Linked DNA regions of Homo sapiens. The protein of the gene in region 1 purifies or fractionates together with the protein of each later gene. This does not show direct contact. Each region holds a gene or a part of one and is shown on either strand. Other genes may lie near its edges.

What was found. The genes of interacting proteins can lie anywhere in the genome.
Region 2: the proteins of NIM1K (region 1) and PDE6D purify together in Homo sapiens (affinity purification with mass spectrometry; one large-scale study listed by BioGRID and IntAct). This does not show direct contact.

Annotation. Positions count from the first base shown.
Region 1 is NC_000005.10:43,190,997-43,195,024, reverse strand, and holds the start of NIM1K (serine/threonine-protein kinase NIM1), read right to left. Parts: upstream 2,801-4,028; 5' UTR 2,614-2,800; intron 2,174-2,613; exon of another isoform or gene 1,369-2,173; intron 1-1,368.
Region 2 is NC_000002.12:231,771,283-231,774,782, forward strand, and holds part of PDE6D (retinal rod rhodopsin-sensitive cGMP 3',5'-cyclic phosphodiesterase subunit delta), read right to left. Parts: intron 1-3,500. UniProt on the Homo sapiens protein: Promotes the release of prenylated target proteins from cellular membranes. Modulates the activity of prenylated or palmitoylated Ras family members by regulating their subcellular location.

The sequences.
Region 1 (4,028 bases):
GATTCAAAGAATGAAGTTGGATTTAATGTTATATTTTAATTTTTAAGTTTCTCAAAATGAAACTATATATGTGACAAAAACATTAACCTACTAAGACAAAAATCTTTGCTTTTGTTTTTTTAAAAATGTATGATAAGTCTGTCATGCACCTGTAGTCCCAGCTCCTCAGGAGGCTGAGGCAGGAAGATCCCTTGAGCCCAGGAGTTTGAGACATGCCTGGGCAACATGGCGAGACCCAGTCTCTAAAAACGAAAAGAAAATAAAACAAAACTGTAAGTCTGAGGGCTTCAAGCTGTCTAATCACATGCTATCAATGTTAGAATTTGAAGCTCAGAAATCGTGGATGTGTAATGAATTACGGTTCTTTAAAGAAACCAACATTTGCTGATAAAAGTATTTGAAATGGTACCACTGCTTGCCCCAAATTAAACCTTTTCAACTAAAAACCTAGGGTTAAACCAAGAATATAAAGGGCTCTATAACCTATCTGTAGTTATTACTGGGGAATTCAGATTTCATATAAACCTGTCTTTATTTTAAATGTAGTTAGAAAAAAAGCACACACCTCAAACCAAATATCCAATCCACATTTTTTCCTAACACAGAAGGAGGCTTCTCTGAAGGTTTTTCCAGGCTTACCATTTAACAGTGGTCCAGCTAAAAATAAACCCATGAGGGTTTACTAGGCAAATTCAATGGCACACCAAACACCAGTCCATGGGGAGTTGGATTCAGCTTTTTCCCCACTAGCCTCTCGCAGGAATCCCCCCCTACATTCTCCCATCTCCTAATTAGAAAGCTAATTAGGCTTCCAAATGTAAATGCTAAATGGCGAGGGCGATCTGGGCTCAGGCCAGGATTCGTGGAACATCTAACACCCTCCTCTGTCCTCTGTTCGTGCAGTGAGCTGTGGGAAGAGAGCTGGGCAGCATGACTATTTGGGGCCATTTAACTTGCTGGAGGGCAGTGTTTACTCTCATTTGTCTGAGCGGAAAGCTGTGTTGCATGGACTGCAAACTCTGAAAAAATAAAATAAAAAAAACAACAACATGCCTTGGGATTTTAGTACTTTAAGGGAAAAAGTAAGTACATTTTCATAAACTCAATTATTACCATGGTGACAACGAGGGTACAAGAGAAGGTCCTCTGGAGAACAGTTCCTGCTTCTAACTAGACAGCCTCTCAATAGAGCAGGGCGACTTCTTCAGTAACCATGACAACCAGAATTAGAAGTGCTGTTGCAACACTAACAGAAACCATCTTTTGAAGCGGTTCTGTGAATCACATTGAATACTGATGATGCAAGCTAGTGTGATACATACTTTTCAAACATTAAAAAAAATCTTATTACCATAAACAAATATTCACCTTAGATTTCCATTTGAAATCTTGACTTGGAATCACTTTTTTTCATCTGGTTTCGTTTGTTTCCCTTTTGGATTCCCGCGGCCTCAATTGCAAACGCGATTTGTGTAATTTCCAAACTTGTCAGAACTGCACGGGTAAGAGCTTAGAATGTGATTCATTCGCTCTTATTTTGAAACGGGATGAGGAATGGGGTGGGGGAGGGGGGGTAGACAGAGAGCCCTCTTGTCTACTGTACTCAGGAGGACGAAAACAGGGGAGGGAAGGGGAAAAGAGAGGAGAAAGGGAGAAAGGGAGGGAGGGAGGAGGAGAAGAGAAGGGGAGAGGAGGAGGAGGAAAGGAGGGAGGGAGAAGAGGGAAAAGGAGGGAAGGAGGGAAGGAAAAAACAGAAAGGAAAGAAGTGCTATAGCAGAATCTTTGCTGCCCATGTTATCTATTGCCTTGACTTCTCCATCTGCCAAGATGTGTCAAGCACGCAGAAGCTGGCTGGAATCGATATTTTAAAGACCCGGTTGCGATCTTTTCCTGGTCGTATCAAGGAGTCCTGGAGCTTCTAATATTCCTGGAGGGATATCCAGGAAGAGGAAAAGAGGCTCTTCCTTACTTCGTGCGGTCTTCCAAAAGAAGCACCTTTCGCTGGGGAGAGTCGCGGCGTGGGGTGCAATGGAAGGTTTTGTTCTCCTGGGCCACATGCGTTAGATGTCAGTTCTCTCCACCAGCAGCACCGGCCGGCGCGCGTGGGGAGATCACGCCGGTCTTCTGCCCTTGTAACAAACGCTCCAGATTTGGTCTGGTGCCTTAGGGCTCTGGTCCAGCGCACCCGCTGTGCGCAACGCTAGGCGCTAAGCTGCGCTCCTCGGCTCACGTGTGGACGCGCACGCAGACACGAGTGTCCACACCATACAGAGACATGGGTGCACACACGCGCGCACATAGACATGGGCGCCGCACATGACACGGGCACCACACATGACACGGGCACACACGCGCGAGCACGCTCTCGCCCTGGCTCTAATGCCCCCTCCTCTCGCTTGCGGATCGGCCTGGGCAGGTGTGGGGGTACGCCCCAGAAAGCGCCTAACCTTCTTCTGACCCCACTTCGCAGACACCCCGTGGCAGGGCTTCCTTTCTTCCTTGGGTCGCGGGGAGGAGAGGCGCCTCCTCCTCAGCCACCCAGGTCTGCAGCCTAGCAGAGGAAGGGTGGCGGGGTGGGGGTGCTGGCGGCGAGTCCCCCAGCCCCTCGCTTACCTTCGTGGCGAGGCCAGCTCTTGGGCTTCGCTGCACGGCGCCAGGCTAGGCGCGCTGGGTTGTTGCCTCTGGAGCAGGAGCGGTCGGTGTGTGGATGTCCCGAGGTGAGGGCGCCGCTGTCGCGCTTGAGGCTCCCGGAGCTGTCAGGGGCGGCCGACCTGACCGGCAGCGGCCCAGGGCAAACCCCGCCCTCCGGCCTAGGCCGGCTCCGCAGCGGGGACCGAGACGCCCCACAGCGTTTCCTGAAGGACCAATCCGGAGCGAGGGGCTGGCGTGGGGAAGGAGGGACGGGGGGCCTGTAGTGCACCCGGACGCCGGCCTGGACCTTGTAAGCTGGTTTCTATGGCAGCCAGGAGGGAGGGGCGAGAGGGAGGGGACGCGCGGCGCAGGGACACCCAGTGCAGTCGCTCGGGGAGGGGGGTGATTGGGCCTGACGCAAAGAGGACCCCTTCTAGAGTCTGGATGGGAGCAGCTACACGGCCGAAAGCGGGCTGACACAGCTCCCACCGACGTACGCCTCGTGCCGAGCGGTTCCAGCGCTTCAGCAAGGGTTTCCATGTCCTTGGGAAACCGTGACCCAGTAATCCTCCCAACAGAAAGGGGGTTTCCAGCAAACCACCGTGACAGCTCCTCCGGGTGAGTCGGGCAGGGTTTAGGTTCTGCAGAAAGAAGTGCTAATGTCACCCTCTGTCTGGATTCCTGGCATACATCGGTTCCCCTGGTGCCACTTTGTCACTGGCTCCCTAATCTCCTGCTAGGGAGATACTCTCGGCTGTGACCCTCAGATGCCAAAGATTATTTTTCTAGTTTATAAACTAGAAATACCGTCACTGGATTGAACGTAGAGTTGGAAATGGGATTCGCAAAATACTAAATAAAACATACCGGTTATTTACTGAAGTTTAAGCCCTTCCTTTTACAGAGAGAGAAAAAAAAAACTGAGTTCAGAGGGGTCAGTTAACTTAGCAAGGGTCACACAACTGATTAATGGCAGAGCCAGGACTAGACACCCTAAGTCATAGTTCTGCGAGCATTCTTTCTACTTCCTCCTGCTCTCCATCCTGTATTGATTGCCAGAGCAATATTTACAAGAGCAAAACTGTTAAGTAGCAACATAACCCATGTCTACAATTCTTTTATGGTAGAAACTAGGGAACCCCAAAATTCCTTTTTTGCTATTTGCCAGGCATTGTAATAAACTCTTTTACAAAGAGTAACTGATTAAATCCTCATGATAATCTATGGGTTAGGTACTGTTACTGTCATCCTTGTTTTGATAGATGAAGAAACTGAAGCCCAGAGAGGTTACAGGATTTGATCGAGATCACACAACTGTTGAATGCTGGCTCTGGGACTCTAACCCAGTTTGTTTGACTCCAGAGTTGGTGTTCTTCATTACTTTGTCTCTGCTGCCT
Region 2 (3,500 bases), on another chromosome or scaffold:
TTAAAACTCAAAATTAATAATACAACAACAAAAGAATAAATTCTCCAGAGAGGCATCATGGTATACTGTAGAAAACATGGACTTTTAAAAAGACAAAACAAGGCTTAAATTAAGGTTCTGCCTTCGTCTAAGTGACTGCCTCGTCGATCCTCAATTCCTTAGTCTATAAAGTGAGGATAACAATGAATAGGGTTGTTGTGATAATGCAGTAATATATCAAAGTTCTTTAAAAACCGAAAAGCAGTATAGAATTATGAGATATTACTAGACCATGCTGTTTCTTCTTGTGGCTATATTTACAGTGCTAATTTATATTACAGCTATTTATGTTTCATTCTCTAAATGTTATCTAAATTCAGAGGCAATAATTGCTCTCCTTGACTCTGAATCAGTTGTATCCACAATGCACTAAACCAAACACTTCAATACTGAGTGTCTCAGAGTTGTGTCAGAAACAAAAAGGAAACAATTGGGTCACAAAAAAACTTTTTGCCGATTTTAGGTGTAGAACATATCTCAATATAAACATTTGCCAAAAAAAGTACTTGTTAAGTAAGAAAGGCTGTCACCAAATCAAAGAATTGTAGTGCTGGAAAAGGATTTGAGTATTTCTGTAGATCATCTACTGTAATACACATTTGATACATACAAAATTTCCCTCTGCAACACTCTTGACAGACAGGCATCTATCTGCTGCTTAAAACACTTTCTGGAAAATGTCTTTTTTCAGGTAATTCTACTAATTGTTAGAAACTGGCCTAAACTCTGTCACCTGTAATTTCTACCCCGCAAATCTTGTACTTCCTCTGAGAGCTACACAGCAACATTTAATTCTTCCTCTTTAGAACAGTTGTTTTTTTTTTTTAACTTTAGAAGAGAATACTCATATCTCTTGTCCAACTCTTTTCATCTTTAGGTTAAACTCCCTTCAGTTCCCCCATTATTGAATGTATGCCATGTTTCAAGTGGCCCACCTTTATACCAGCTCCACTTTCCCCTGCCTCCCTTTGCAGTAGACTAAACAAGCTTTCATGTGTCCTACGGTGAGACCATCGCCTTCTTTGCCATAAACAGTAAGCTTTAGTCCAATCCATTGAAATCTTTGTGGATATTGGACTGTAAGAAATATATTTGCTTTTCTTCCCAGCTCCAAAATTATAAGCAGGTCAAAAGCAAAAAAGAATGCTGCTCTCAGAACTTTGACAATTTGAGTTTTACGCATTCAAGCAATTATTAGAATAGTCAGGCTGCTGGAGAAGATGGCCTTAAAATTCCTTCCTATGATGCTAGGCTTTAGCTCAGGAATAGAGAGGGATAGGTCTATAAGTCAAATCCTCTCATAACACGAGGATTTGTGGATGCAGAATGCTGACAAGTGAGGCCTGGGAGGCAAAACTGAGGTCAACCCTAGTAAGAACCTAGAGCTTCCAAGCCTCAGAACCATTGCTAGTCCTTTATCAAATGTAGTGGTGATACAACTGGAATTCTCCATGACAGTTTTACCGTGTTCTGTCCCATTTCTCCAGAAGTTACTGTAATGTTTCATTATAAACCATATACACAACCCTGGCAAGAAACTTAGAAAGTCAGTAGAAGACTATAAATATCTAATTATACACTAAATTCCTTCCAAAAAACAAAAGCAGGAATGCCTGTTTAAGAATCCTAAGTAAGGCCGGGCGTGGTGGCTCACGTCTGTAATCCTAGCACTTTGGGAAGCCAAGGTGGGCAAATCACTTGAGCCCAGAAGTTCAAGACCAGCCTGGGCAACATAGTGAAACCGTTTCTCTACAAAGAAAAAATACGAAAATTAGCTGGGTATAGTGGTGCACACCTGTGCACCCAGGCACTCAGGAGGGTGAGGCAGAGGATCATCTGAGCCTGGGAGGTCAAGGCTGCAGTAAGCTATGATAGCACCAGCCTGGATGACAATGAGACCCTGTCGCAGAAAAGAAAAAAAGAATCCTAAGATAATCAATAGGACATTATATTCATTTAATCCATTCAGGATAACAATACAAACTCTCAAGAGTCCATGCATGAGGAAACAAGCTACCAATCACAATCTACATGAAACTGGGCTTTATGAGTGGTATGTCTGGTTGCTTTCCAAGACTTTGGGTTGTCAGACAAAACCTATATTATGGGAAATAATAAACCTCAAATTCATTTTTAACATTTGGCCAAGGCAACTGTACCAGGGAATACTGACTTTCAAGAGAAGTTCTACAGTCGACTTTTCTTAATATGTCTACTATTCTTATTCTTTATTCTAAGTGAGTAAATAGAAGATGTAAAGCCAACTGTTTTTTGATTGGAAGCAAAGTCAAGGATTAAGGTACTATGAGAAAGAAGATACAGGGATTCCAGGACCAAACTATGGGAGAAGAAATGTAAGAAAACAAGTGAAAGATGCTTTCAGAAACCTTCTGAGCCCAAACTCTTTTTGCTAACCTGCCATAAATTAGAATGAGATTCATTTTCTAGACAAGATAAACATGAGGTATATATCAATGCTTATTGAATCATTTATTCAGAGGCAAAATGGAAATACGATAGTTTTTCAGTAAGAAAATATAACTAGAATGAAGGCATTAGTTATATCTCAGAGAAATAAGTAGCTTTACAATCATATTAACACTATTGTCATTATTATTATTATTATTATTGAGATGGAGTCTCACTCTGTTACCCAGGCTGGAGTGCACTGGCGTGATCTCGGCTCACTGCAACCTCCACCTCCTGGGTTCAAGCAATTCTCCTGCCTCAGCCTCCCGAGTAGCTGGGATTACAGGTGCACACCACTACGCCTGACTAATTTTGTATTTTTAGTAGAGACGGGATTTCACCATGTTGGCCAGGCTGGTCTTGAATGCCCAAACTCAGGTGATCCACCCACCTCGGCCTCCCAAAGAGCTGGGATTACAGGCATGAACCACTATACCTGGCCTGTCATTATTATTAGTAATTATTAATAAAATGAATGGCAGCAGATATTACTATATGCCAGGCCCTGAACCAAACATCTTTTATGCAGTTTCATTTAATTCTCAAAACAACCCTCTGATAATATGAGATACAGATGCTGAGGCTCAGAGTCTGAGTGTTCTGTTGAGAGTCACAATAGCAGAGGCAGTAAGTCTAAACCTTGGAAGTGAGCCCATACTCTCAACCACTGTGCTATATACTCTACTGCAGTAATGTGTAAACATTTGATAGATACCAATTACTTTCTACAGACACTACACACACACACATAAACCAAATGAGAGTGCCCCTTTCCCTCAATGTTGTGAACACTGAATATTATCTTTTTTTTTTTTTGAGACTGAGTCTCTCTCTGTCACCCAGGCTGGAGTGCAGTGGTGCAATCTCGGCTCATTGCAACCTTGGCCTCCCAGGTTCAAGTGATTCTTCTGCCTCAGGCACCCTAATAATAGCTGGGATTACAGCTGTCCACACCATGCCCAGCTAATTTTTGTATTTTTAGTAGAGACGGG